Homo sapiens: one gene and its partners. The protein of the gene in region 5 purifies or fractionates together with the protein of the main gene of each other region. This does not show direct contact. Each region holds a gene or a part of one and is shown on either strand. Other genes may lie near its edges.

What was found.
Region 1: the proteins of CD160 (region 5) and ITGA6 purify together in Homo sapiens (affinity purification with mass spectrometry; one large-scale study listed by BioGRID and IntAct). This does not show direct contact.
Region 2: the proteins of CD160 (region 5) and ATF6 purify together in Homo sapiens (affinity purification with mass spectrometry; one large-scale study listed by BioGRID and IntAct). This does not show direct contact.
Region 3: the proteins of CD160 (region 5) and C1QL1 purify together in Homo sapiens (affinity purification with mass spectrometry; one large-scale study listed by BioGRID and IntAct). This does not show direct contact.
Region 4: the proteins of CD160 (region 5) and LOXL1 purify together in Homo sapiens (affinity purification with mass spectrometry; one large-scale study listed by BioGRID and IntAct). This does not show direct contact.
Region 6: the proteins of CD160 (region 5) and POGLUT1 purify together in Homo sapiens (affinity purification with mass spectrometry; one large-scale study listed by BioGRID and IntAct). This does not show direct contact.
Region 7: the proteins of CD160 (region 5) and TCTN1 purify together in Homo sapiens (affinity purification with mass spectrometry; one large-scale study listed by BioGRID and IntAct). This does not show direct contact.

Annotation. Positions count from the first base shown.
Region 1 is NC_000002.12:172,489,776-172,493,785, reverse strand, and holds part of ITGA6 (integrin alpha-6 isoform b preproprotein), read right to left. Parts: intron 2,763-4,010; coding exon 2,664-2,762; exon of another isoform or gene 2,566-2,663; coding exon 2,455-2,565; exon of another isoform or gene 2,362-2,454; coding exon 2,263-2,361; exon of another isoform or gene 1-2,262. UniProt on the Homo sapiens protein: Integrin alpha-6/beta-1 (ITGA6:ITGB1) is a receptor for laminin on platelets. Integrin alpha-6/beta-1 (ITGA6:ITGB1) is present in oocytes and is involved in sperm-egg fusion.
Region 2 is NC_000001.11:161,845,871-161,849,880, reverse strand, and holds part of ATF6 (cyclic AMP-dependent transcription factor ATF-6 alpha), read right to left. Parts: intron 3,433-4,010; coding exon 3,301-3,432; intron 1-3,300.
Region 3 is NC_000017.11:44,958,995-44,962,560, forward strand, and holds the end of C1QL1 (C1q-related factor precursor), read right to left. Parts: intron 1,374-3,566; coding exon 1,194-1,373; 3' UTR 699-1,193; downstream 1-698. UniProt on the Homo sapiens protein: May regulate the number of excitatory synapses that are formed on hippocampus neurons. Has no effect on inhibitory synapses.
Region 4 is NC_000015.10:73,924,746-73,929,378, forward strand, and holds the start of LOXL1 (lysyl oxidase homolog 1 preproprotein), read left to right. Parts: upstream 1-1,716; 5' UTR 1,717-2,038; coding exon 2,039-3,140; exon of another isoform or gene 3,141-3,215; intron 3,216-3,319; exon of another isoform or gene 3,320-3,503; intron 3,504-4,633. UniProt on the Homo sapiens protein: Catalyzes the oxidative deamination of lysine and hydroxylysine residues in collagen and elastin, resulting in the formation of covalent cross-linkages, and the stabilization of collagen and elastin fibers.
Region 5 is NC_000001.11:145,736,273-145,740,072, reverse strand, and holds the end of CD160 (CD160 antigen precursor), read right to left. Parts: coding exon of another isoform or gene 3,772-3,800; exon of another isoform or gene 1,588-3,771; coding exon 1,580-1,587; 3' UTR 785-1,579; downstream 1-784.
Region 6 is NC_000003.12:119,489,212-119,493,221, forward strand, and holds part of POGLUT1 (protein O-glucosyltransferase 1 precursor), read left to right. Parts: intron 1-1,339; coding exon 1,340-1,507; intron 1,508-2,306; coding exon 2,307-2,363; intron 2,364-3,070; coding exon 3,071-3,227; 3' UTR 3,228-4,010. UniProt on the Homo sapiens protein: Dual specificity glycosyltransferase that catalyzes the transfer of glucose and xylose from UDP-glucose and UDP-xylose, respectively, to a serine residue found in the consensus sequence of C-X-S-X-P-C.
Region 7 is NC_000012.12:110,616,999-110,621,008, reverse strand, and holds part of TCTN1 (tectonic-1 isoform 1 precursor), read right to left. Parts: intron 1,174-4,010; coding exon 1,053-1,173; intron 1-1,052. UniProt on the Homo sapiens protein: Component of the tectonic-like complex, a complex localized at the transition zone of primary cilia and acting as a barrier that prevents diffusion of transmembrane proteins between the cilia and plasma membranes.

The DNA of each region.
Region 1 (4,010 bases), on a different chromosome or scaffold from region 5:
GGTCTGGTCTCAGCTCTACTTGCTGGTCGGGTGACCCTGACGGGGAGATACCTTTCCTTGGATTCAGTTTTCTTATCTCAATTTGAGATTTGGGGACTTTAAGGGGACCAAGTGCCACAGAGTCAAAGAACAGAAGCCCTGAAGTCAGACAATTACAGGTTTCAATTGAGGGTCTCAAATTATATCCCCTCTCTGAGTCTGCTTCCTTGTTTGTAAAATGAGTACAATGTTTACCCTTGGCATTCTTCTGAAGTTTGAATGATAGAGTATAAAGTATCTAGTAAGCTGCAGACATTTTATTAAGGCTTCATTAATGTTAGTCCCTTCCCTCTAAAGTGTTCTCTGTCTAGCTCTGAAATCTCAGTGATTTTCAGAGTTGCTGATTTACAGTTATAGAAAGCTATACCTGCTGCCTTTATAGATGCAGAGAAAGGATCCTTAGGGAAGGTGTGGTTTATTTGAAAGTCCCTTATGATGCCTGTTGATATGTCCTGGAGAGACCGGGACAGTGCTGGTTGATACCACTTATCGCAGCAGCTTGCCCAGTACAGCATTTGTCTCAGGCAAATGTATCCTGGGGCTGGGTGCAGTGGCTCACACCTATAATCCCAGCATTTTGGGAGGCTGAGGCAGGCGGATTGCTTGAGTCCAGGAGTTAAAGACCAGCCTGGGCAACATGGTGAGACTCTGGCTATACAAAAAAAACTGAAAAATTAGCTGGGCGTGGTGGCATGCCTGTGGTCCCAGCTACTCAGGAGGTGAGACAGGAGGATTGCTTGAGCCCAGGCATTCAAGGCTGCAGTGAGCTGTGTTTGCGCCACTGCACTCCAGCCTGGGTAACAGAGCAAGACTCCATCTCAAAAAACTAAATAAAAACAAAAATGTATTCTTGCTTGGATAATAAATCGTAAGGACTGCTATATTTCAGAAAACAGAATGATTAGGGAGGCTCCCTGAATTTTCAGCTAGCTAAATGACTGAAGCCAGAACATTTCCATAAGTAGACTGGCAGATTAACTTAAGAACAGTAATTCACAGTATTTCTTTCTCCAGTCTCTTTTGCAAAACATTCCCATTCATTATTCCCACCATGACATGCAGTCATTCTGCCTCGAGATCTTTATACAAGTCCCTGTGGGTTCTAGACTCCCACAGGGAACCCCTCACTATTGGTTCACTACAAGGTTCTACACCTAGTCCTATTCAACATATTTGTCATTACCTGGATGAAGACATAGAGAACATGCTTCTCAGTTTTTAAAACTTTCAGGGATAGAAAGTTGAGAAAGCAAATGATGAAGCAAGATTCAGAATTACTTTGCAAACTGAAACAATGGACCCAAAGCAAATCACATAAAATGTAAGGATACACTTAAAGGCATACATTTAGATTTTTACAAATAGCTCAAGGACAGGATACTGGAAACACAGCTTGACAACAAATTCTGATGAAAACACCTGGAAGTTTCAGTAGAACACTAACACAAAAATAGCAGCTGCTAGAAATTCAAACATGCTGCTCAGCAATGGTTTGAAAAAGCAAATTTTAGGCAGGTCTGACAGAAGTGTGGTGCCGAGATGCTGAGAGGTAAAGGCCCCAGGGTAAGTGGGACCAAGCAGACCCCACCTCAGCTGCTCTGTCCACGTGGGAATCAAATTGCCCAGGAAGGGAGAGGCCAGGAGCCAGTTCAGCTGTGCCCAATGTGACGCATAACTCAAGAGCTGGGTGCATAAGCTCTGAGAAGAATAAGAAACATCCAAGGAGGCATGACCATTTCCTTCAATTATTTGAGAGGCTGCTACATGGCCAAGAGAGAGAACTTATTTTAGACTTGTTTGAGGGGCATAACCAGGGACTTACAAGGTTCAGTTCAGGAGTCAGCTATGAAGAGATCTTTTTTAATAATTACAGCTGGCCAAGGGATGGGCCATCACTGGGGCATTACACCAATGGCTGCAGCATTAGAGATGGTAGAAGACACAGGTTTCTAGAGGGCTGTGAGGTGCACCCATTCTCTGAATTGAGCCAGTAGTTCTCAAACCTACCATGGGCACTGCTGAACTGGATGACCCTAGATTTACTTCTTTTTTTCAATGATTCTATTAAAATACAGCTTGCAGTGCCAGTACCTTAAGACAGTTTTCTCCGTAATGGGGCTATGAGGGAAATGAGCACCAAAGCACATGACTTCAGGACATGAGTGTGGGGTACAGGGAAAAGAGACATGTTCTGAACCTGAATGAAGCTGGGGAACCTCTCACCTGAGTGCCTGCATTTGGCAGCCTGATATTTTCGGCAGCAGCAGTCACATCAATGAAGGCTCGCATGAGAATGTCCAAGTAGTTCAGTTTGGAATATTCCTGTTTGGAGACAGTGAATGCATTAGGGAAGTGAAAAGTGTCCTAGGCAAAGGCAAATTACTTCCATGGGACAGCCTCAAGCCAAGGTCATACCTCTAGAAATGTGCTGTTCCATAACCTCGAGCGCAAAATAAGAGACGCCTTGCTGTCCAGCCCCCGCAGCGGGCATCTGATGTTCACACAGTTCACGTTCACGCTACAGTTCTAGAGAGAAAAAGAAGAATGGTCATCAAAAGACATTGTTCTGAAGAAATCCTTCCCCTCATCCTCTCAAATATTCACAGCTCTTGAAAAATACTTACAAGAGTCTGGTATTTTCTTTCAGCAAATAAAGAAAATTTTCTGTTATCATCTATCTGTTTTTCAGTAATTTCCCGTTTCTTTCTTGAGTTGTGAGACTCCTGAAAAAAATTATATCCAAAATAGTTCCAATTTATGTAATTCTTTGTCATTACCATACAAGCCTCTTGAGCATATCCTCCCAAACAGTGCCAGATTCACATAATCAACAATATTTGCCTCTCTCCTGCCAAAGGCACAGAAGTAAGTGTAAAACCAGCAAGTATTATCACTCTAAATTCAAGTTTATTGATTTACTCATAGGACTAAGTAATTCATTCCCACTCTGACCTTAAAACTCAGAGAAAGAGAAATATGCTTTCTTTGTTCCTCTGTATCCCCACCAAACTGTGGGCATACTGAGATCAGAGATCAAATCTTATTCCTGTATCCCTAGCCTCCAGCTCTGTTCCTAAAACATGGTAGTCAGCACATCTTGAAGGAATAAGTGACACTGAAGAACAGAGAAAGAAGCAAAAAGACCCATTATATAGCTCATTCAGAGCAGAGCAATGAAAACTAAGCCATACAAGAACTTTTAAAATTGCATTTTCCTTATAGCAAAGATTAGTAATAACCGATTATCTTGATTTTTAACATTGATGAGTAGAAGATCATGCTATAAGCCACCAACTCTGATCACTGATCATACCCAGTCACCTTAGAATTTAAAATAAAAGAAATAAACATGCAAACCTTCATCAAACTGGAACACAAATGATAGGCCAGTTATCTAAGCATGGAGCAGTATAGAGAGAGGGGTTAACAGTACAGGCTTTGACATCAGGCAGAGCAGGGCTTGTATGTGGAATCTGTCTCTTAACGCCTGAGTGACTGAGAGAGTTACTTGCTCTCTGAATCTTAATGTCCTCATCTGTGAAATGGTGAGGATAATGAAACGCCCTCATAGGACCATCCAGAGAATGAAATGAGAAAATGAAAACAAAATGCTTAGCATAGTTCCTGAGACACAATGAGTACACAATAAATAATTACTATTTTAAAAATAAGCATAAAAAGCTTTCAAGGTTACTTGCTGAGATGCCATTATCTTTTCCAATGAGTTTGGTTCTACTTGGAGTGAACACTGGCTGGCCCCTGGATAACAGCAGCTACTATTACCCCAGGAGCATCCCCCAGTTCTCCTTATTATGTAACATACTGGGTCATGATGAAACATCAGAAAATACCATTTGCCTCAGCAAGCACTGAATGACTCTGCCTTATGTACTATAATGGTCATTAACCAGCAAAAATGCCTCAGCCTCCCTCAGTTACCCAACTAGAAAAGAGAAATTGTGACAACCAAA
Region 2 (4,010 bases), about 16 Mb from region 5:
AACAGGGAGAGGAACTGAGTTCCACAGTGCACATGTTAAGTTTGAAATGTTAAAACAGAGATGTCAAAGAGACTATTGGATATGTGACTCTGGAGACTCAGAAGAGAAGTCTGGACTGAAAACATAAATTTGAGAGTCATCAGGACATATAGATATGAACTGTGCATGAAATTATAGATGAGTCACCTAGGCAGAAAGAAAATAAAAAAAGTTTACAGTTCCAAACCTTGAGAGTTGGGTAAAAAAAGAGCCCACAAAGATTACTGTGAAGCAGCAGCCAATAAAAAAAGGAAACTAAAAAACCATAGTAACACAAAAGGAAAGTCTTTCAAGGAGCAAATGACCCACACAGCCAAATGCTGAGGAAAGGGCAAGTAAGATGGCAGAAAGCACTGGCCCCTTAACAGAAATAACTCTGGCAGAGTGGAAGGCTAACTTCAAGTTAAAAGTTAGAGATAGCTATTTATGCCACACACGAGAGAAAAGAAACAATAGCAGAGGATATATAGAACATTCTTCCCTGCAACTTGCACCAGGAATATTCTCAATGTCCTCTCTTGTGGCTGTAAGGGTTAAGTAGGTTTAAGTTGTTTGGAATAAAACAGACATGTTGGTGCACAGGTAATGAATGCAAACACAAAAGGATCAGCCTAAAATGAAGCATTGAGTGAGAAGGAAAAAAAGTATCTGTCTTGTGTTTGATAAATCTGAATGCCTCTAAGAGGAGGCTGCTTAACACCTCTTCTTATAAATCTATGACATACGCATTATTTTAAAAATCATGCCTGCATACTTAGAAAAATACAAACACTGTAGTCCATGAGAAAAGTCCAAAACTGCTTTTGAAAATATATTTGTGATCTGAACTCTAGTAATGATTTCTGCACATCTGTGCTAACTGGCTTTGTTCTATCAGCCAAAAATATTCTTTGGAAAAAAAAAAAAAAAGTCTGATAGGAGAAATACCAGGACAAGGATTGGGTGGAGTTAAAGGAGAGAGAAAATCAGCCAACATACAATCTGGAGACAATTAGACCAACATTAGCCCAGGAACAGTCAGAGTTCGAGTCTGCTTGCAAACATTTTATGCCAAGAGAAAAAAATTCAACAAATAAATCATTAAAGTAAATAAAGTAAAGGACAGTGCTAGGGAGCTAGAGTTAATGAGAATTCTTGGAGTAAAGATCAGTTCTGGGTGACATCTTATATAGGGTGACCATCCTTTCTCATTTATCCAAGACAGCAGTACTGGTATTCTGATGTAATTATTACTAGCACTACCTTTCCTTCTTAAGAGTGTCCCAGTTTGATAGAACATTATATGGTCATACTATTTATATGCCACACATTTCTATGACTGAAAAAATATAAGCAGTTAATTACTAAATGATAGGCTAATACAATATTATAAACTATGGGATTAGAATCTACTCATTTTTTATTTGAACCATGTCTCATAGCTCTCCTTAGAAAAAGAAACATAAAGTAAGCTGCATTAAAAAAAATGTATAGGTATCACGGCTGAAAATAGATAAAACATCTAAAATTCAGTTCAGAACACAGAACAAAGTAATATTAGGTGCTTTCAAATGTTTCACAAACATTTTTTGGTATCTTTTATTCAGTATTTATACTGATAAAATCAAGAACATCAAATTAATGGACTGACATTTATTTAAATCTCTCAAGTTGCTGAAAAATATTTCAAAGGACTTGCATGGAATCAAGAATCCATAATCTTTCCTGGGTTGTTTTTTGGTTTTTTTTTTTCCCCAAGACCAGTAACCCAGATTATTCACTCAATGGTGACTTTGGAGAAGGGAGGGAAAAAATAGCTTGCATCCCATGTACTACTCTGAAAGCTGATAAATTTCAGCCAGAAAGTCATTCAGACTTTTAGTTTGAACTAGTATGATCAGACTACTATGCTTTCTGGGAGCCACCATGTTATCTTATGCTAATGTGGAAGGCTTCTACTTGCTGCAGTTAGTGCAGAATAAATAATATTCTTGTAAAGCTTACCTGAACTGTAATTTCAAGCATTCAATCCATAACTTGTTCTATTCTTTAGCAAGACGCTATCTCAACTCTCGTAAATCCAAAGGCTATTAGATTTAAATTTAATTTTTGATGGATCTTATGTGGACACTAACAGAATTCAAAATTATAGAACACGTAGGGCAAACCTGCACAAATTACTTATGAAAATTAAATATACTATTAAACTCTACCAATATTCAGGGGCACCGTTAAGAGATCATCAAGGTGAATATTTTAAGAAGTATGATGAATTTTGGCATGTAAAAAAGCAGGAAATGCTATGTTTTCCAACATTATGACATCTATCATTGCTATGTTGCGTTGCAGCTACTGCCATAAAATCCTTTGGGTCCTCCACTGACTTGGCATACTGTACTCCACAAAAATAACAGTTTTTTCAGGAAGGCTAAGTGGAGACAAGCCTGCAGGATTGTGGTGATCATCTTTCAACAGTATGGATGTAACACAGTAAAAATCAGGAAGAAAGATTGCCCTCAACCTACAAATCCTTAAAGAGATAAAAGTAAACAAATCTGTAATAATTTTCAAGCATTATACTGTGCAATAGTTACCATACTGTGACCTCCCTTTGCCTTGTTAGTCAAGGACCTGGCTCCATTTGGCTCTAATACAAATTCTAAATAACACAGGGAAATGTTTATCAAAAAGTATACAACTATAAAAATGTCCACTATACCTTCTTCTAGTTAACATAATATAGAAATTGCATTTTTATACAATTAAAGCCTTTTGCTATTGACAAGCAATATGGAAATTTATCAAGTCATTATTAAATTGCAACAAGGGAGGGATTCAACAAAGATCACAATAAATGAGTATAAATGATTTTACCTAATGACTGCAAATAGGTTCAATCATGTTATTCCACCATATCATATCCATCCACAGGTGAGACAGTAACAAATATTAGATGTATTATATGTATAAACACATGATAGATAAAATAATTATTAAAGACATTATATATAATATGTATATATTTCAATATGTATATTAATGCACACAAACTGAGATTTTAAGATTACATCTCTATAGGAATTTTAAAACTACAAAAGGTTTCAAAGTAAATTTAATTTTACAATATTAAAAGTAAAATGTATTAATGGTTTCAGTAATTTATGTGTTCTACTACTCAAAATATACACGAACAATTTAGATGCAATGTTATACTACAGATAATTCTCTTGTTTCAGCTTCATTAAATCACTTAGGCCAAAAGATAGATGCATGCCATCTTACCTGTAGCTGTTTTTCTGGATAATACCATCTGATGTGTCCTGTGCCTCTTTAGCAGAAAATCCTAGAAGGTGCCTCCTTTGATTTGCAGGGCTCACACTAGGGTTCATTCTCCTGGAATCCTGTTCCAACATGCTGAAAATAAAAAACAGGAAATAATAGCTGAAATAAAAATATGTCACACATATGCCTGCTACATGCAGCTGTGAAACAAACCACAATTCCTTTGCAGATCCATGCACGTAACAAAAATGCTAGGCATAGACGCAAGTACAAATAGGGTACTGAAGGTGTTCAAATCCTTAGCATGGTAACCTGCACATATCAAAAACAATTTTTCTAAGTATAAAAGTACCTTATTTATAAACTGTTTAAACAATAGTAGTGTTCTATATGTTTTAAAAACTTGATAATTACATGTATATATGAAGTAGAAATAAATACGACACACCTAAAAACAAATTTTAAACTCCAATAATAACTGAAATAAGAAGGCCTCCTGGATGGTGCAAACTGGTGTTTTCAATGAGAGAATACTTCAAATGAAGTAGGAATAAAAGTCAAATTCATTGTTAGCCTTTCACAATTCCAGAAGGCAGGCTATCAGATAAAGCTAAGAAAAAAAAATTTTTTAAATACTTCTATTTGTATTTATATGTAAAAACTTCTATTCTTTCTCCCTACCCTCCCTAATATCTTCACTCATCAATGTA
Region 3 (3,566 bases), on a different chromosome or scaffold from region 5:
TAGGTTAACCAGCCTTTAGTCCAAAGGATGTTCCTTTCTATGGCTGTCACTAATCCTAAATTGCGTTGAAAGAAGTGACTTGCCCAGGATCATACACGGTGGCCCAGAGCCGGACCTAGGTCTCCCTGTTTAAAGATCACCTGTGCCTGTGGAATGCTGATGCCACTTTCAGCGAGGCTCCCGCCTGTAATCCCAGCACTTTGGGAGGCTGAGGCAGGCGGATCATGAGGTCAGGAGATTGAGACCAGCCTGGCCAACATGGTGAAACCCCATCTCTACTAAAAATACAAAAATTAGCTGGGCGTGGTGGTGTGCGCCTGTATTCCCAGCTACTCGGGAGGCTGAGGCAGGAGAATCGCTTGAACCCGGGAGGCGGAGGTTGCAGGGAGCCGAGATCTTGCCATTGCACTCCAGCCTGGCAACAGAGCGAGACTCCGTCTAAAAAAAAAAAAAAAAAAAAAAGGAATGTGTCCACCATGGAAGATGATGAAGTAACTGGGCTGCTTCCCATCCCAGCTGCCCAGGCCCACTTGGGTTGTGGTGGGCTTTAGGCCCTTTGGCAACTTCTTCTTGGAGTAGCTCTGGCTCTGGCACCTGGTTTCCCCTAGAAACTTCCACCAGACCCCTTCCTAATCTGGAGGAGGGCACGGTCCACCGTCGCCTCCCGCAGCCCTCCCCAGGGCACAGACTGAAACCCCTGCGGGGTGAAAATGTTTTTATTATAACTTTGGTCAGACGGGGCACAGCCGGGCGGGGGCTCTGAGGGTGCTGGGAAGCTATCCAGCCCCCAACTCCCCCCTCCCCCGGGCGCGCCACCCCGGAGGGAGCGGAGGGCAGCTCATCTCAGAGCGCAGGAAGCAAACCCGCCGCCGCGACCTCTCCCCAGGCTGGGGTGGGCTGGCAGGCGGAGGTGGGCAGTAAACAGTCCTATTGTACAAATATATAGCGCGGGCTGGGCGGGGGCGGTCAACCCCGGTTCCCTGGCACGGGGACAGGGCGCGCTGGGCCCGGCTCTGCAGCGAGCCGGTGGGAGGGCCTAGCTGTGGCCCAGGCGGTGTTGAGCACGGGCCGGGGGCGTCATAGCCGGGGAGGGCCGGGCAGCGAGCGGGTGGGCGAGGGGCGAGTCATCGTCTGCCCCGCCCGGAGGGGACCCCGGCGGGTGAGGGACGTGGGTGGAGGGAGACGTGGGGAGCTCAGTCGGAGTAGATGATGAAGCCAGAGAACGTGCTGTATTTGTTGCTGTTGCCGCCGTGTGCTTTGCCTCCATCCAGCTTGATGAAGACCTCGTCGCCGGCGTCCAGGTGCAGGATCACGCTGTTGCTGGCGTAGTCGTAGTTCTGGTCCGCGTCCTGGGCAATAGCACTGGCCCGCACCTGCGGGTGGGGGACACGGGAGGGAGGGCGAGAGGAGAGAGAGGATGAGAAGGGAGGGAGGTGAGGCAGTCCCGTGGGGGAGGATCAGCAGACCCAGAAACCTGGCCTCCAGCCTCGCCTCATCCCTGCCACGCTCCCCCTCCCCCGCCCCCTTCCAATCATACAGGACTTGTTTCAGGAAAGGGGCAGAGAGGATCCCTGGATTTCTAGGGCAGGTCTGATCTGGGCCTGAATTGGGAGTCAAGGCAGAGTCTTCCTCCTTAACTCTTATAGGGCTTTCCCTCCAGCTGGCTGAGAACCTCAATACCTCCAGGAAGCCTGGAAGCCTGTCCTTGCAAAGAGGAATTCTCTGGACCTCCAGGGAATGGAGGGCCTTCCCTACTCTCATCATTCCTTCCTCTCTGCTTTCATAATGATGCCATCGTTTCAGCCACACCCGCTGGATCTTATGTCAGTGGATGGACACAAGGGCACACCTTGGCCCCACAGGTCAGGCAGCTGGACCAATGCCAGGCTGCCAGTCAGCAACCACCCTGGAACCAGGGCCAGGTCTTTGGTCTGAAGTGCATTCCAGAGTCTCTCCTGCTGCAGCAGTGAGACAGAAGGCCTGGTAATGCTTTCCCCTCCCAGAGTTTAGAAGGGGCCTGGGTGCCAGCCTCCATGGAGCTGTAGCTATGTACCTGTCACTACCCACCCAAAGAGGATTGTAGCTCCTCCTGTCTCACCTCAGGGTGGTAGAAAGGAACTGGGTGGGAAGAAGGGAATCCAGGCCTTACTTCCCTCTGGGATTCTCAGTCTGATGTGACATCCTTGCTGGTCCCTGCCTTGATGGGGGATGGGGAGGGACAGGCAGGATAATGGGTCAAGGGAGCACCAGCATTTGGGCTTGGAGCCTGCCGTCACTTTTGGGGGCTCTGACTATAATCATAAGAGATTGTGTGGTGGCTGCATACGGTGGCTCATGCCTGTGATCCCAGCACTTTGGGAGGCCCAGGCAGGTGGATCATTTGAGGTCAGGAGTTCGAGAACAGCCTGGCCAATATGGTGAGACCCCCATCTCTACTAAAAATACAAAAATTAGCTAGGCATAGTGGCACGCCTGTAATCCCAGCTCCTGGGGAGGCTGAGGCAGGAGAATCACTTGAACCTGGGAAATGGAGGCTGCAGTGAGCCGAGATCATGCCACTGCGCTCCAGCCTGGGCGACATAGTGAGACTCAGTCTCAAAAAAAAAAAAAGGCCAGGCGCGGTGGCTCACGCCTGTAATCCCAGCACTTTGGGAGGCCGAGGCGGGTGGATCATGAGGTCAGGAGATCGAGACCATCCTGGCTAACAAGGTGAAACCCCGTCTCTACTAAAAATACAAAAAATTAGCCGGGCGCGGTGGCGGGCGCCTGTAGTCCCAGCTACTGGGGAGGCTGAGGCAGGAGAATGGCGTGAACCCGGGAAGCGGAGCTTGCAGTGAGCCGAGATTGCGCCACTGCAGTCCGCAGTCCGGCCTGGGCGACAGAGCGAGACTCCGTCTCAAAAAAAAAAAAAAAAAAAGAGAGAGAGAGAGAGAGAGAGAGATTGTGTGGTGGTGAACGAATGATCTACAGACATTCAGCTAACAGGTATGGAAACATAAGTCCTGAGTTTGAGGATCGGGGCCTCTCCAGGGTATCCTGGGTAGAGACATGGAAGAGAAGCGCCCTCTCCAGGACTGTGGCTTGTGGTGTGGGGAGGCTGCACTGAGTGGAGTTCTCTCAGCCAGGTTTCTCCACGGCCCCTCTCTATCCTGTCCCTTCACTGAAGGCAGCTTACCATCCCAACTCCCAGGGCTGAAGTCTGGGTAGAACCAAGCCAAATTAGGGGAGGGGCCCATCCTCTCTCCTGGGCTGGAGGCAGCACTGCAGGTCAGCTGTGCCAGAGCTGCTGACTCAGCCGCGATGCTGCAATGAAGAGGACCCGACATATTTGCATGAGGGCCTCCCTTTAAAGCCCTTCTCCAGCCCCTTCTTTTCCCTCAACCTCTTCTTCCCAACCTGAGAAGAAACTCTTTGTGTGCTTAGCTGGGAAAACTGGTCTAGTTAAAGGTGGGAGGGAATAAATGAAGGGGGAGATGCTGTCTGCCAAGGAGCTCAGTTTCTCTGTCTAGAAAATGGATGAGAAGACTTTGCCTCACCACTGCCACCTCTGTAAAAGTCTTTTGATG
Region 4 (4,633 bases), on a different chromosome or scaffold from region 5:
TCCCCCTCCTCTGCTGCAGCAGCTGCCCATCTGGCTGGCGGGAGGGCCCTACAGGACCCCAGGGATTCCAAGCAGCTGAGGCCAACACTGCAGGGGGCAAGCAGGAGGGAGGGAAGGCTTAACCCTCCAGGTCCCGGCCCTCAGTAAGCCCTGCCTCAGCATCTTGCTTGGTGTCAGTCACACCAGTGGCTCTTTGGAGGAATCTTGTCTGGAGTCTGAGATGGAAACCCCATGCTGGGGAGCTGAGGTGTCAGCGTTGACAAGTTGCTGGCCAGGAGGTATTGGAAGCCCCCTACCTCTGGGCTGGATTCTGGGCATTTAAAGGGTAGAGACATGCTGGAGTCCAAGCCTCAGTCCTGAAGAACAGTGCAATGGGTGAACAAATGCTGCCTGGCAAGGATGGGGTTGGGAGGTCTATAGTTCCCAAAGAATGTCCACTCTAGTTGCCTCCTCTCTAGGTGGGCTCCAGGCATTTCCAAAATAAAGAATATACAGGAGCCAAATTAAGGACAGGTCCTTCATACCTTGTTTATAAGCCCAAGAGGGCAATTTCTGCCCTTCGGTTCCCAGGAACACGGTTGGAGAAGGCAGCCCAGGGGAGGCCAGAAGAGCAGTATTTGGAGTGTGATTTCTTGGATGCCAAAGCGTTCAAACTTCTGGGACCCCCTCCTATCCCTGCCATTCCCAGAAGGAACAGAGAATCTCCCAAAGCACTCTCAGGAGCCATCTGGCCTAATCTTCCATTGGTAAGCCGTGGCACCTGGATCAGATAGAGTAAGGGACTAAGCCACACAGCAACAGGACCAGGCCAGGTCTCCGGAACCCCCTTCTGTTGTTCAATGCTTACTGGCTTCTCTGCCTCACAGTGACCCCTGTCCCATATCAAAGACAGCCCCCAGTTTCATTTTATCCATGTGTACACTCAAGTTATTCCCAGGCTATGCAGAGCCAAGAGATGTAGGACAGAAACCATACGTGATGTCTGGGAAGTTGATCTCTCCCAGGATCTCACAAGTGCTTTTCAGCTCAGGGATACACCCCACTCTTCAGACTGGGAAAGTAAGCCCCTGAGGTGTGCCACGAGGGAAAAGGTGCAGCTCCAGTGCCTCTCTTCGCAGGCCCAAGAGCTGCGGTGCACCTGGGACCTGGAATTAGAGAGTGGTCCCTGTTCAGCATCTCCCCGAGGAGGCCCACCAACAAAGAGGGTGTGTCTTTTTTTTTTTTTTCTTCCTATTGAGGGTGTGGGATAATGGTGGAAGGAACATGCAAAGAGGGTGTGTCTTAATTAGCACTGGCTTTAGGGAACAAGGAAAAGGGAGAACCCGGGAGTACGGGAAGGAGGCTGGGGCAGACAGGAGTCAGAGGCCCATTCCAGCCCAAACGAGAAGCCAGTGAGCAAGGTGGAGACCAGGGATGCTGTGACCAAAGCAGAGAGGAATGGGCGGGGTGGTGCTGACACCCCAGCCCCGTTCTGCCTGCCAGAGCCCCACTTACCAGGCCCGAGTCCCCAGAGGTCCCCTCCTACTCCCTGCTCGATTCCCTTCCTCAGAGGCAGGTCTGTGGCTTGGCTGGGAACTCCAGGGACTGAGGGAGCACTGCAGCTGTGGGACCGGCGCATAGCTAAAAGCCGGCGGGCCATAGGGCCCCGCGGAGGAGGCCCCAGCAGGCGGACCAGGAGGCCGAAGCCTCCCGACGCTCCCAGCCTGTTGCTTATTCATTCAGAGTGGGAAAGCGCCAGCCGAGCGGCCAGCCAGTGCGGGGCTGGCCATGTAAGGCCCACAGGCGGTCCTGCCCGCCCGGTGCCCTGCGGAGAGCCTCGTGCAGCCCTGGGCACCGCCCCTGCCCTGCCCTGACCCCTTGGCCTTGAAATGCTGTCATCGGAGGAGCCGTCCCGCTCGGGACAAGGCCAGCATGGACAAAGCTAGAGCTGGGGCAAGCAAGGAGCCTTCCTGTCCTCGAGGCCGTGGGAAGAGAAGCACGCCCAGGGGGCCACTCCTGAGAGCCTCTCTGTCCACCAGGCCTCTGCAGAGGGGTCACCATGGCTCTGGCCCGAGGCAGCCGGCAGCTGGGGGCCCTGGTGTGGGGCGCCTGCCTGTGCGTGCTGGTGCACGGGCAGCAGGCGCAGCCCGGGCAGGGCTCGGACCCCGCCCGCTGGCGGCAGCTGATCCAGTGGGAGAACAACGGGCAGGTGTACAGCTTGCTCAACTCGGGCTCAGAGTACGTGCCGGCCGGACCTCAGCGCTCCGAGAGTAGCTCCCGGGTGCTGCTGGCCGGCGCGCCCCAGGCCCAGCAGCGGCGCAGCCACGGGAGCCCCCGGCGTCGGCAGGCGCCGTCCCTGCCCCTGCCGGGGCGCGTGGGCTCGGACACCGTGCGCGGCCAGGCGCGGCACCCATTCGGCTTTGGCCAGGTGCCCGACAACTGGCGCGAGGTGGCCGTCGGGGACAGCACGGGCATGGCCCGGGCCCGCACCTCCGTCTCCCAGCAACGGCACGGGGGCTCCGCCTCCTCGGTCTCGGCTTCGGCCTTCGCCAGCACCTACCGCCAGCAGCCCTCCTACCCGCAGCAGTTCCCCTACCCGCAGGCGCCCTTCGTCAGCCAGTACGAGAACTACGACCCCGCGTCGCGGACCTACGACCAGGGTTTCGTGTACTACCGGCCCGCGGGCGGCGGCGTGGGCGCGGGGGCGGCGGCCGTGGCCTCGGCGGGGGTCATCTACCCCTACCAGCCCCGGGCGCGCTACGAGGAGTACGGCGGCGGCGAAGAGCTGCCCGAGTACCCGCCTCAGGGCTTCTACCCGGCCCCCGAGAGGCCCTACGTGCCGCCGCCGCCGCCGCCCCCCGACGGCCTGGACCGCCGCTACTCGCACAGTCTGTACAGCGAGGGCACCCCCGGCTTCGAGCAGGCCTACCCTGACCCCGGTCCCGAGGCGGCGCAGGCCCATGGCGGAGACCCACGCCTGGGCTGGTACCCGCCCTACGCCAACCCGCCGCCCGAGGCGTACGGGCCGCCGCGCGCGCTGGAGCCGCCCTACCTGCCGGTGCGCAGCTCCGACACGCCCCCGCCGGGTGGGGAGCGGAACGGCGCGCAGCAGGGCCGCCTCAGCGTGGGCAGCGTGTACCGGCCCAACCAGAACGGCCGCGGTGAGTACGGCCCCGGCGCCCCTCCGGCCGCGCGTACCCCTGGCCACTGGAAACTGCTCCGGGCCCCCCGGGCCCCTCCTTAGAACTTCCTGGAGGCCTCCCCGGAGCTGCTAAGCACGGAGCAGCGCCCCCTCCCGACTTCCCCCGACCCAGCCAACAGCACCCCCCTGGCATCTCACCTCCCAGCTTAACCCGCACCCAGGCATCATCAGTGCCAGGGGTTGGCCAGGCAGGTGTGGGCTCTGATCCTGGCTTTGGTGGAGGGACTAGCCGAGCTTTGGGAGGAGGCTCGCCTTCTGCACTTGGCTTGGGTCATCTGAGGACAAAAGGAAGGAGCCCCTCATCCACCTTCTCCCTCATTTCAATGAGGGCATCTCCTTCCCCCCTTAGAGATGTTCTATGCCAGCTCACAGGGTGAGGCAAGGAGCATCAGAAACCTGAGTCTTCAGGGCCAGAAAGGCCTTAAGGGATGCCCCTGGAGGTGTGGCAGGCTGCCCATTACTGGGCATGTGTGAGGTTGGCTTGAGTGCGCAGGAGGTTAGAGGGGAGCGTGTGCTCCAGGCAGGAGTCCGGACTTCCTCAGGGGAGTCTGCAAGGCTGGGGCAAGAGAGACCAGTCAGGCACTGGCCTGGGTGCAGAATTTCAGGGGCTACCAAAAAACACAGTAGTTGAGATGAGTAATATTGAGATGTATTTTTTTAAGTCAAAATTAATGCAAAAAAAAAAAAAAAAAAAAAAAACCTGTGATAAAGGAAATATCCAGATTTTAAATAGAGTCAGTAATAGTGGTATGCCGAGCCATATTGGAGCCTGAGGCTAACTGAAAAATCAGCAACACGGATCCTGTCTTTATTTGATATTTGGATATTTTGTTCATTACAGATAGTTTTGCATTAATTTTTATTTTAAAAACTATTGTGTTAAATATTACTTATCTCCGTTACTGAGTTTTTTTGGCACCCCCTAAAATTTTGCACCCCGAGGAAAAAAAAAAAAAAACACCTCACTGGCCTCATTCCCCTCACCCTAGTCCTGGCCCTGGCGGAGAGCCCCAGCTGTGGACAGGACTCCCTCTGGCTTTTCAGGGGGTGAACATACGTCCTCCTCTTGGGAAGGCCCAAGCCCTCTGCACATGAGGACACAGTGGAAAGGCAGCTTCCACACATGCTGTTAGCAGACAGGGCTACTGTGACAAGGGCTGACTGGTGGGTGTGGCCAGTGCTGGACGGCCATCAGCCATTCTCTGCTGTCCTAGAATCCCCCTCCCTGCTACCCTCTCCATACAGGCAGCTTTTGGGCCAAGGTTTTCTACTCAGTCCCCAATACTTATGCAGTCCAACTCTGCCTTGCCTCTTTCAAGCTGTCGTCAGTTTCCTCTACCCATAATTCTCTGCTCCCCATTGAGGTTGCTGTGCCTGGCCCACCAAGTAAGGGCTGACTGAGCCCTCCAGTGCCTCAGAGTATAGGTGCTAGTGCCCCAGCCTCCTCCTCAG
Region 5 (3,800 bases):
GAAAGATTAAGATGAATGTGATGTAGTGGAGAAAGCTTTGGAGACTTTGGAGTCAGAACTCAAATGGCTCTAGGTCCCAAATCCAGACTCTCATTTTGATTCTCAGAACAATTCTGTGGAAAGAGAAGATACAATAGGCAATATCCCTTTTTACAGATAGGTAAACAGAAATAGCATCTCAAAACCTCATTTGCACTGGGTGAGGTGGCTCACGCCTGTAATCCCAGCACTTTGGGAGGCTGAGGCGGGTGGATCACTTGAGGTCAGGAGTTTGAGACCAGCCTGGCCAACATGGTGAAACCCCGTCTCTACCAAAAACACAAAAATTAGCCAGGCATGGTGGTGCATGCCTGTAATCCCAGCTACTTGGGAGACTGAGGCAGGAGAATTGCTTGAACCCGGGAGGTGGAGGTTGCAGTGAGCTGAGATCATGCCACTGCACTCCAGCCTGGGCAACAGAGTGAGACTCCGTCTCAAAAAAAAAAAAAAAAAATTCATTTGCCCAATGACAAATAGCTGGTATGTTGCAGAGCCAGAATTTGAATCCAGGTCTTTTTGCCTCCATGGCTAGTCCTTTTATCTCCATGGGATACAGTCTAAAATCCTTAGTTTGAGGTTCAAGACTATCACTAATAAGAGTCTTACTCATCTACTTCAGCCATATCTCTTTCCGTTCCCACAAACCTTAGCTCCCACATTTGGCAGGTCCTTGCCAAGGAGCACAGGTAAAGTGTCTCTTTCCTTTTAATGGCTCACCATGGAGCTGTAGCTAAATTTCTGTGCTCTTACCCCTTTATTCATGTAGTTCCTCCTATCAGGAATATCCTGCCCACTCTCTGCTTAACTATGACAAGAGGTCATCTGTCCAAAGAGAAAGAAGAGAGTTTGTGGATTTAGGAGAAAAGAAAAGACTCCAAATACTGCTATGGGCATTTATTTAAAAAGAGAAATGACCAAAGAGGTTAACAAGTATTTAGATGAAGCTGGGCAGTTGTAGTCTGTGGTGCTCTTGGTCTGCACAAATCTTCCTCTTCCTCCAGCAGTGCTGTATGGATGTTGTTGAATGTTGAGGTCTGTCTGCATTTTCTCATTTTCATGCCAAGTCAATCACTGGATCTGGCTGTCTTCCTTTCTGTCCTACCTATCTTTGCTTGTTTTCTCTCTCTTTCCTTTGCAGTGTTAAATAAAAATTTATTCCCCCAAAATTTGGTGTTCTCATTTTGTTTGACTTATTTTACTATGTTGATGAAGAGGGAGGAAAAGTTTTTCTGGGGTACAAAAACGCATATATTTATCCGATATTTGAGGACTATACTACCCACTTTGGTGAAAGCTGTTCTGTTTATTTACTGGAGCTTAGGAGGGAAGAAGGCAAGTTTGCCCTGATGGTGAGGAGCAAAGTCAAGGATTACACTGATTTGCCCCAGCTTATATTTCCACAGATTCTTGGTATATTTAGCATCTCTTCCCCTGTGCCCTGTTGCATTCTTCTCTGTGCCTATTGTAATGAGAAAGATACTAAGCCATAGTCAGACTCATCTTGCTGTAGCTGTTTTAAAAGTTTCTTTTGGCACAAGGCTTACAAAGCTGTGGAAAGAAAGTTTGTATTACTGCCTTATAACTTAGAATAGCAACAAAATACCTGATATAATGAAGTCTCACCTGTCCTGAGATGCGTGCGTGATAGGCCCTCATGACTGTAAAGGGATTGGAAAAGGAAAGTGGGAACTATTTTATGTATTGCATCTTATTACTAAATTAGGGTTGTAATCTTGAGCAAATCTGATTCTGGTGGGAGTGGGAAGGGGGCTAGCCTTTGATCGCTCCTTGCTGGAAGGAACAATCAAAGAAGCAATAGATGCCACTCAAAAAGTTGAAGGTAGGTTTTCCACGTATAGCTCTGAATTGTTGGCACAGTGGTAAGACAAGGATATTCACTGAAACTAGTTCATGAGCTGAGAGAGGCACAGAGGTCCAGGAAACTCCCTCCTCCTTTTCCCCACATGTAAGCATGATAACTTGACCTATGTGGTGTTTCTGGACCTGAAAAAGCATGTGTACTATTCTACTGAATACTACCTCTTTCAATAATTCTACTAAGCCTTGAGTTGGGGAAGAAGGATAAAGAAAAGAAAGCTTCTAAGTAGTGTATATTTTCTCGTTTAATCAAATATTGAGCTTTGGTTTTTTCCTTTGGTTAACTTTAAAGCTACTTGAATTGAATATAGGAGAAAACAAAAAATTGGATTCAAAAGCTCATTCTCTTCACCTGAGTGGAAAAGGAAAAAAAGGCCAGAGATGATTTTTTTTTTTTTTTTTTTGCTCTAGGATGACTTGGGAATCAAAGATAGTAACTAGTAGTAGGTTGTATGGCTAGACTCAATTTCCCCTTTATAATTTTTATTCTAAAATAAAATTTATTTTACTGGTTACAGTGGCCTAACCAAGGGAATTTAAAGTCAACAAAAAATTATGTCTAAAGGTCAGACTGTTTCATATTCATGTTTCCTCCTGAAAACTGGCATAGGCTTAAATTTGGAAGATCCTTACCAAGGATTACAGATAAGGTCTCTGTTTTCTTTTTGAAATCTCTGTTTTCTTTTGATGACTTGCAAATAAGGGACTGGAATAGGGAATGTTTAGGTGGTCCTGTTTCTGGAAAGGGGAGGAGTCAATCTCAGAATGAATGGGGTGGTGAAGGATGTAAGAGGTGCTTTGCATATAGTAGATCATTACTGAGTGTAAGGTTTTAGAGTGAGAAGGATCTGTATTAATTGCTGTGACGGGCAACAATTAACTCTTTTTTTTTTTTTTTTTCCTTTGAGAAAGTGTCTCACCCTGTCACCCAGGCTGGAGTACAGTGGCATGATCATGGCTCACTGCAACCTCAACCAGCCTGGGCTCAGGTGATCCTCATGCCTTAGCTTGGGACTACAGTTGTGTGCCACCATGCCTAATTTTTGTATTTTTTTGTATAGTTGGGGTTTTGCCATGTTGCCCAGACTGGCCTCAAACTCCTAGGCTCAAAGGATCTGCCTGCCTTGGCCTCCCAAAGTGCTGGGATTACAGGCGTGAGCCACCGCACCAGGCCCTATTTAACTTCCTTGTGTCTGTTTCCTGATGAGTAACCAGGGGATGTTTGCTTGCAAGGGTTGTATAAGGTTAGAATCATCATGTGTAAAGCATCTGATTCATCATACAGGTTTTTTAACAAATTTATTAAGAGCCTGCCATATGTGTGGGACTTTTCGTTGGGGTAAAGAAGACAAAGTCCTTACATATATATAGAGCTTACATTCTGATGCCATTCAAAACAGTGGTAGTTATTGATTTGAGGAATGCCTAAATAAAATGGAGTTAAGAATGCCAAGGCCAGGCAAAAACCTGAATCAGTTGCTTGTTATGCAAAAACGTTATGACAAATTATTGGAAGTTTCACTTTTTGTTATCTAATAGGGAAAACGCTAATCTATATTGGTAAATGGTTTTCAGAGGACTCAGCTACATGTGTTTAATATACTCAATCTGGCCATCAGCCTTTGCTGAGGAGCCGCATTGTTCAAAACCCATCTCCAAACCAAGTCTGTCTCTTGCCTTTTCTTCCTCTAATAGCTGAAAATCTGTTGCTTCAACTTGTAGCCCTCTGTTCATGCAGTGAGTAGAGGTAGTTGTACTAACTTGCCTCTCTCACAGGCCTTCATTCCTAATGAGTCTTACCTCCTACCCATTGAAAAGTCTGATTTATCTGTCTTCCTCCTTAGTGCCTTTGGATCAGTGAAACTGGTTTGAACTTTCCTGTG
Region 6 (4,010 bases), on a different chromosome or scaffold from region 5:
CTAGTAATCACAGTAATGGAATTACCTCTCCATATGCCCCACCCACCCAATCATTGAAGTTAGAATAAATATTTCTCAGTTAATAAATATTAGAATTATTATCCTGGTGTGCTGGCATGCTCCTGTAGTCTTAGCTACTCGGGAGGCTGAGGTAGGAGGATCCTTTGAGCCCAAGAGTTCAAGACCAGCCTGGGCTACATAGTGAGACCCTGTCTCTAAGAGAAATAAAATAAAATTCTGGGACTAAGAATTAGATGAACAGGTAAAACCAGGTCTAGAGGAGGGCAGTGGTGGTGGGGGTGGCTCAGAGTTAGGAGTGCTAATGACACGCAGAGTAGGAGCTATATGGTGAAAGCAACTCTGGTTGGCGACAGGTGCGTGCATAAGAAATGCTGAGAAGAAGACAGCTTTTTTTGTTTTTTTTTTTTCCCCTGTGGGCAATCTCTGAAAATTGATTAGGTTTTCCTCATTCTCCTCTCTACACCAGGGGTCCCCAACCCCCTGCCATGGTACTGGTCTATTAGGAACCAGGCTGCATGGCAGGAGGTGAGCAGTGGGGAAGCGAGCATTACCGCCTGAGCTCTGCCTTCTGTCAGATCAGCCTTGGCATTAGATTCTCATAGGAGCACAAACTGTATTGTGAACTGTGTATGCAAGGGATCAAGGTTGCGTGCTCCTTATGAGAATCTAACTAATGCCTGATGATCTGAGGTGGAACAGTTTCATCCAAAACCATCTCCCCCACACTACCCATCCATGGAAAAATTGTCTCCCATGAAACTGGTCCCTGGTGCCAAAGAGGTTGGGGACCGCTGCTCTATACTTTAAGAGAAGAGGGTGATGTCCAGGAAGCAGTGGAGACCTTCGACCAGATGGGGTACACTAGAGGAAAAACAAGGCTTTGGGAGGCCATGACTAGTTAGAGACATTAGGCCTAGAAAAGCTTGTGAAATTTTTTTCACTCGTTTTATTTTATGTTTACCATTGAACATTTATTTTCTCAGATATGTTCCAAATCTACAAGCTGTCATTTCCTTCTGAGCCCTGTATACACTCTACCCGGCACCCAGCTCCTGACCCTATCTAGTGCTGTCTGGAGAAAATATCCCCTATTTTTCCTCACCCTGCCATTCCCAGAACAACCTGTAGTCCTAGCCCTGGTAAAGTGGCTGATAGAAACCACTTAGGAACATATTAATGTGTCCTTGAAAACTCAAAGTGGAAAGAGAATGGAGAGGAATCATAAAAGGAAAGAAGGGGAGGGGAGAATAAGCATAAAAGGTCATATTTGTGGCAGCAGGCATATAGTATCAAATGTATTTTGTTCTTTTTTCCCCAGGTATCTGTTTAATTTTCGAGGCGTAGCTGCAAGTTTCCGGTTTAAACACCTCTTCCTGTGTGGCTCACTTGTTTTCCATGTTGGTGATGAGTGGCTAGAATTCTTCTATCCACAGCTGAAGCCATGGGTTCACTATATCCCAGTCAAAACAGATCTCTCCAATGTCCAGTAAGCAGTTATCCCCCAATGCAGAGTTTCTAAAGACCCTTCCAATCTGCTTTTAAAAATGCCTTAATGCCTTAAAACCAGTCATGTAAGACATTTAGTCCTACGATTTTTTTCCATTGAAAGCTTTTTTTCCTCTTGGTTTGCATATATAGTATTGCATTATTATCCAAGTAGGCTATAAGTGGAATTTAATTTGAAAAAGCGCTTTAATACTGGTTTCAAATGAAACGTTCAGACAAAATGAAGTTAAAAAGCTCTAATCTCTCCAAGACTAAAGATAGGGATATTCAATCTTATTATATTGTCAAAAGGATTTTCAGATACAGCATGAGAATTGACTCAAGTGAAGCTTCAGCAAATTTCCTTTCATGACAGGAGGAGCTAGGAAGAAGTATAGAGAAGGGCCAGAGTTATCTGAATATTGTTATCATGGTGATATCTGTGTATATATATTTTTTTTCTATATATAAATATATTTATATATAAATATGTAAAATAATATAAATATCTAATATAATATATAATATAAATATACAAAATATATGTAAATATATAAGGTAACTTCTGTATTTTCTCAAATATGTCCCAAATCTACAATAGGGTATCTTTAATCAGTGTGTGGGGGTTTTTTTTTGTTATTATTTTGTTCTTGAGAGAACCCTGATATCTTTGCTTGAAGGAAATAATCCACCATCCACATACCTAAAATTATCCATAGACCTCAATCTATATCGTCTTTCTGACTTAGTGCCAATGAAGTTGGTCTATATTTCACAGTCTAAAATTCTTTTCATTTTAGAGAGCTGTTACAATTTGTAAAAGCAAATGATGATGTAGCTCAAGAGATTGCTGAAAGGTGAGTTCTGTTCATTTTCCCTTTTCCACTTTACTTTTTGTCATCCCCATTATGCCCTAGCCAAAGTTATCTGAATATTGTTATCATGGTGACATCTGTATTTTATCCTCATTATATGGAGATAATTCAGAACTAAACCTGTCCTGGGGGAAAACATACACACATGTCTACATATGCTTGTTTTAAAGGAAAAAGATGGGCCGGGCGTGGTGGCTAACGCCTGTAATCCCAGCACTCTGGAAGGCCGAGGTGGGCGGATCACCTGAGGTCAGAAGTTCAAGACCAGCCTAGCCATGGTGAAACCCCATCTCTACTAGAAATACAAAAAAATTAGCCGGGTGTGGTGGTGCGTGCCTGTAATCCCAGCTACTCGGGAGGCTGAGGCAGGAGAATCACTTGAACCCGGGAGGCGGAGGTTGCAGTGAGCCAAGATCGCACCATTGCGCTCCAGCATGAGCAACAAGAGCGAAACTCCGTCTCAAAAAATAAATAAATAAATAAATAAATAAAGGAAAAAGATTGTTAAGTTGTATTGCTACATGCATGTATGTGGATATGATTGCCATAGGGTTGGTTCTTGAGGCTCAAATGAATTAATTTATATAAAATGCTGAATAATGCTTGGCACAAGGTGAGCACTCAAATGCAGACTGCTATTATCATTAAATTCTGTGCTTTAACATTTTCTTGTTAAATCTTGTCTCTAGGGGAAGCCAGTTTATTAGGAACCATTTGCAGATGGATGACATCACCTGTTACTGGGAGAACCTCTTGAGTGAATACTCTAAATTCCTGTCTTATAATGTAACGAGAAGGAAAGGTTATGATCAAATTATTCCCAAAATGTTGAAAACTGAACTATAGTAGTCATCATAGGACCATAGTCCTCTTTGTGGCAACAGATCTCAGATATCCTACGGTGAGAAGCTTACCATAAGCTTGGCACCTATACCTTGAATATCTGCTATCAAGCCAAATACCTGGTTTTCCTTATCATGCTGCACCCAGAGCAACTCTTGAGAAAGATTTAAAATGTGTCTAATACACTGATATGAAGCAGTTCAACTTTTTGGATGAATAAGGACCAGAAATCGTGAGATGTGGATTTTGAACCCAACTCTACCTTTCATTTTCTTAAGACCAATCACAGCTTGTGCCTCAGATCATCCACCTGTGTGAGTCCATCACTGTGAAATTGACTGTGTCCATGTGATGATGCCCTTTGTCCCATTATTTGGAGCAGAAAATTCGTCATTTGGAAGTAGTACAACTCATTGCTGGAATTGTGAAATTATTCAAGGCGTGATCTCTGTCACTTTATTTTAATGTAGGAAACCCTATGGGGTTTATGAAAAATACTTGGGGATCATTCTCTGAATGGTCTAAGGAAGCGGTAGCCATGCCATGCAATGATGTAGGAGTTCTCTTTTGTAAAACCATAAACTGTGTTACTCAGGAGGTTTCTATAATGCCACATAGAAAGAGGCCAATTGCATGAGTAATTATTGCAATTGGATTTCAGGTTCCCTTTTTGTGCCTTCATGCCCTACTTCTTAATGCCTCTCTAAAGCCAAAAAAAAAAAAAAAGACAAAGCCTCTTAATAAATTTAATGGAACTATACATAGAACAGCAGCTCTTCCTCACCC
Region 7 (4,010 bases), on a different chromosome or scaffold from region 5:
ATATGGTGAAACCCCACCTCTACTAAAAATACGCCAGGCATCGTGGCGTGCACCTGTAGTCCCAGCTACTCAGGAGGCTGAGACAGGAGAATTGCTTGAAGCCAGGAGGCGGTGGTTGCAGTGAGCCACTATCACACCACTGCACTCCAGCCTGGGCAACAGAGCGAGACTCCATCTCATAAAAAAAAAAAAAAAAAAGAAGCCTTGAAACCTCAATTATAAGAGATCATTCAGAACAGATTATTTATTTACCTTATAATCAGCTGGAAATGTCATTTTTCATTGTTCTATACAATGCGAACTGTGAGAATTCCTGGTAGATTTACATATCAGAAAAGTACAGATTTCTTATCTAATTTTTTGTTACAAATACTATGTCCACAACAAAAGCTGTGAAATTAAAATGCACTTTTCACCCTAGGCTATACTAATTCACTGATACAAAAAATGTGACCACTGTCTACAACTCAAATTGAAATGTAATTCAATCTTCAAACACAGAGGTTTCATTACATTATTTTAATGTATATTCTCTCTTCTCTTTTGCCTGCACAGTCACCTGGCTGAATGCAAATAAGGGATAGCTACTTTTTTTTTTTTTGAGACTGAGTCTCGCTCTGTCACCCAGGCTAGAGTGCAGTAGCGCAATCTCCACTCACTGCAAGCTCTGCCTCCCGGGTTCACGCCATTCTCCTGCCTCAGCCTCCCGAGTAGCTGGGACCACAGGTGCCCGCCAACATGCCCGGCTAATTTTTTTGGATTTTTAGTAGAGACGGGGTTTCACCGTGTTAGCCAGAATGGTCCCAATCTCCTGACCTCGTGATCCACCCACCTCAGCCTCCCAAAGTGCTGGGATTACAGGCGTGAGCCACTGCGCCCTGCCAGGGATAGCTACTTTTTTACATATTTGTTTGGACGGTATGGCTTCAGAACGACGTAAAACACTGGAAATCAGGTTTGGGTTTTTAAGCCTGGGAAAGTTTTCCCTTTCTCCAAATTGTATTATCCTGGTCAAATTTTTTCAAAATTGCATGTGTCATACGTAAACTTACGTGACAACTGGAACTGAGCAGGCAGAAAAGACACTGAAATCCACGGAGCTGCAGTCGGGATCACAGCAGCAGTTGATGTCACACTGTGCTGGGGATAAGTCACAGACACAGAGAACAGCAACTGCAGAAAAAAGAGGGGTAGGATCCAGAACATCACCATCAGCAGGTGGTGACTGCCCCCTGCCACCACAGTGTACCATAAGTCAATTTCATAAAAAAGATCCATTTTATTTTTCCTATTGCACTTTGGGGGAAATTTGTGAAGTGGAAATGAGTCAGTTTGAGCATCCCACAATCAGAGGTTTCCCCAAAGTGGCTAATGATCTGACTCGCTTGGAAAGTTCTGTTAGTGCTTTGCCTACAGAGATGCTGATTTCGTAAGCTGAATATGAAACCCAGGCATTTGCAGTTTTCAGAAACTTTCCAGGTGATGCTTATAATTAGACAAGTTTAAGAACAAGCACCCCTAAACCATTTGCCTGACCATAAGAACCACCAGTTTAAAACTCCAAAGTCCTTAAGCCCCTCCTCTAGAGATTACGATTCAGAGGAAGGGCCCACTTAAACCTTCAGGAAAGAGACTTTTCAATCTTGCCCCCTCTTCACGTATAACCTGCTGCTTTAAAGCTGAACTCATATTCACAGACCCTTGGCCAAGAATCATACCGGCTCAGGTGCTCAGAATGTCTTTGGTGATTTAGACAATAAGGTATGAGGGCGGGGTAGGAATCTCCCCCACCTCACAACTTTTAATTATTTTATTTATTTATTTATTTTTTAAAGGAGTTTCGGCTCTTGTTGCCCAGGCTGGAGTGCAATGGTGCAATCTTGGCTCACTGCAACCTCCACCTCCTGGGTTCAAGCTATTCTCCTGCCTCAGCCTCCTGAGTAGCTGGGATTAAAGGCATGCACTACCACGCCCAACTTTTTTTTTTTTTTTGTATTTTTATTAGGGACGGGGTTTCACCATGTTGGCCAGGCTGGTCTCAAACTCCTGACCTCAAGTGATCTGCCAGCCTTAGCCACCCAAAGTGCTGGGATTACAGGTGTGAGCCACCACTCCTGGTCAACTTTTAATCATTAATAAGGATGATTTTTCTTTGCCGCTTTGCAACAAAGATGATTATCTGGATTTTTAATTCTCTATCTTATTCTGTCAAATAAGGACAAGAAAACCCTTTTAAAAAATAGAGAATGAATTTATAGTTGCAATTATTGCTGGAAGGGAAGAAGTAAGATCAACCTTCAATCTTATCTGTAACGTTTTCTTTTTCAAAAGAAGATTTCAAACCAGGCACGGTGGCTCACATCTGTAATTCCTGCACTTTGGGAGGCGGGCAGATCACTTGAGGTCAGGAGTTTGAGACTGCCCTGGCCAACATGGTTAAACCCTGTCTCTATTAAAAATACAAAAATTAGGCTGGGCGCGGTGGTTCATGCCTGTAATCCCAGCACTTTGGGAGGCCAAGGCAGGCGGATCACAAGGTCAGGAGATTGAGACCATCCTGGCTAACACGGTGAAACCCCGTCTCTACTAACAATATAAAAACTAGCTGGGTGTGGTGGCGGGCACCTGTAGTCCCAGCTACTGGGGAGGCTGAGGCGGGAGAATGGCGTGAACCCAGGAGGCGGGGTTTGCAGTGAGCCGAGATCGCGTCACTGCATTCCAGCCTGGGCGACAGAGCGAGACTCCATCTCAAAAAAAAAATTCAAAAATTAGCCAGGTATGGTGGTGGGCGCCTGTAATCCCAGCTACTCAGGGAGGCTGAGGCAGGAGAATCGTTTCAACCCAGAAGGCAGAGGTTGCAGTAAACTGAGATCACACCACTGCACTCCAGCCTGGATGACAGAGTGAGACTCCATCTCAAAAAAAAAAAAAAAAAGATCTCAAGCCAAAAAACAAAATTAACAAAAAAGGAATCTGAAGCAAATGCTGCTAGTGTCCACCCAACATTCTTATTTGTACGTATGAATTATTTCACGATAAAAAGGAGCTTTAGAAAAATGTACCCCACAGCGGCCGGATGCAGTGGCTCAAGCCTGTAATCCCAGCACTTTGGGAGGCTGAGGCAGGTGGATCACGAGGTCAGGAGGTCCAGACCAGCCTGGCCGACATGGTAAAACCCCGTCTCTACTGAAAATACAAAAATTAGTCGGGCATGGTGGCACACACCCGTAGTCCCAGCTACTCAGGAGGCTGAGGCAGAAGAATAGCCTGAACCCAGGAGGCAGAGTTTGCAGTGAGCCGATATCGTGCCACTGCACTCCAGCCTGGGTGACAGGGCAAGATTCCATCTCAAAAAAAAAAAAAGAAAGAAAAAGAGAAAAGAAAAATGTATCCCATAGCTCACGCCTGTATCCTAGCACTCTGGAAGGCTGAGAAGAGTGGATCCCCTGAGGTTAGGAGTTTGAGACCAGCCTGGCCAACGTGGTAAAACCCCATCTCTACTAAAAATACCAAAAAAATTAGCCAGGCATGGTGGCGCGCGGCTGTAATCCCAGCTACTTGGGAGGCTGAGGCAGGAGAATCGCTTGAACCTGGGAGGTGGAGGTTGCAGTGAGCTGAGACTGCGCCACTGCATTCCAGCCTGGGCAATTAAAAAAAAAAAAATAGTACCCCGTAAAAGGTATAATGCACTCTGCAAAAAAAATGTGTGAGGTGAAGGGGAAGGTTTTGTTAATATGCCATGATTTCTTAGTCTAAGACACAAAAGCTTTCCCCCTAAAGTTTACAGTGCTTCTCTCTAGTTGAGAACTCTTCTATGTGCCTAGTAAAATGACACAACTTATGCACGCTAATGTAAAAAATTAAAAGTGCTTTAGGTTCCCTGTATGTTTAAAATTACTATCTTGCTTTGTTTTCAAAACTTAAAGCCCTTATAGGCAGCTGTAAGACTACTAAGGACGAAGCAATAGTGTTTAATAACTCCACTTAGGAAAAAGGTTTCTACCCAGGAT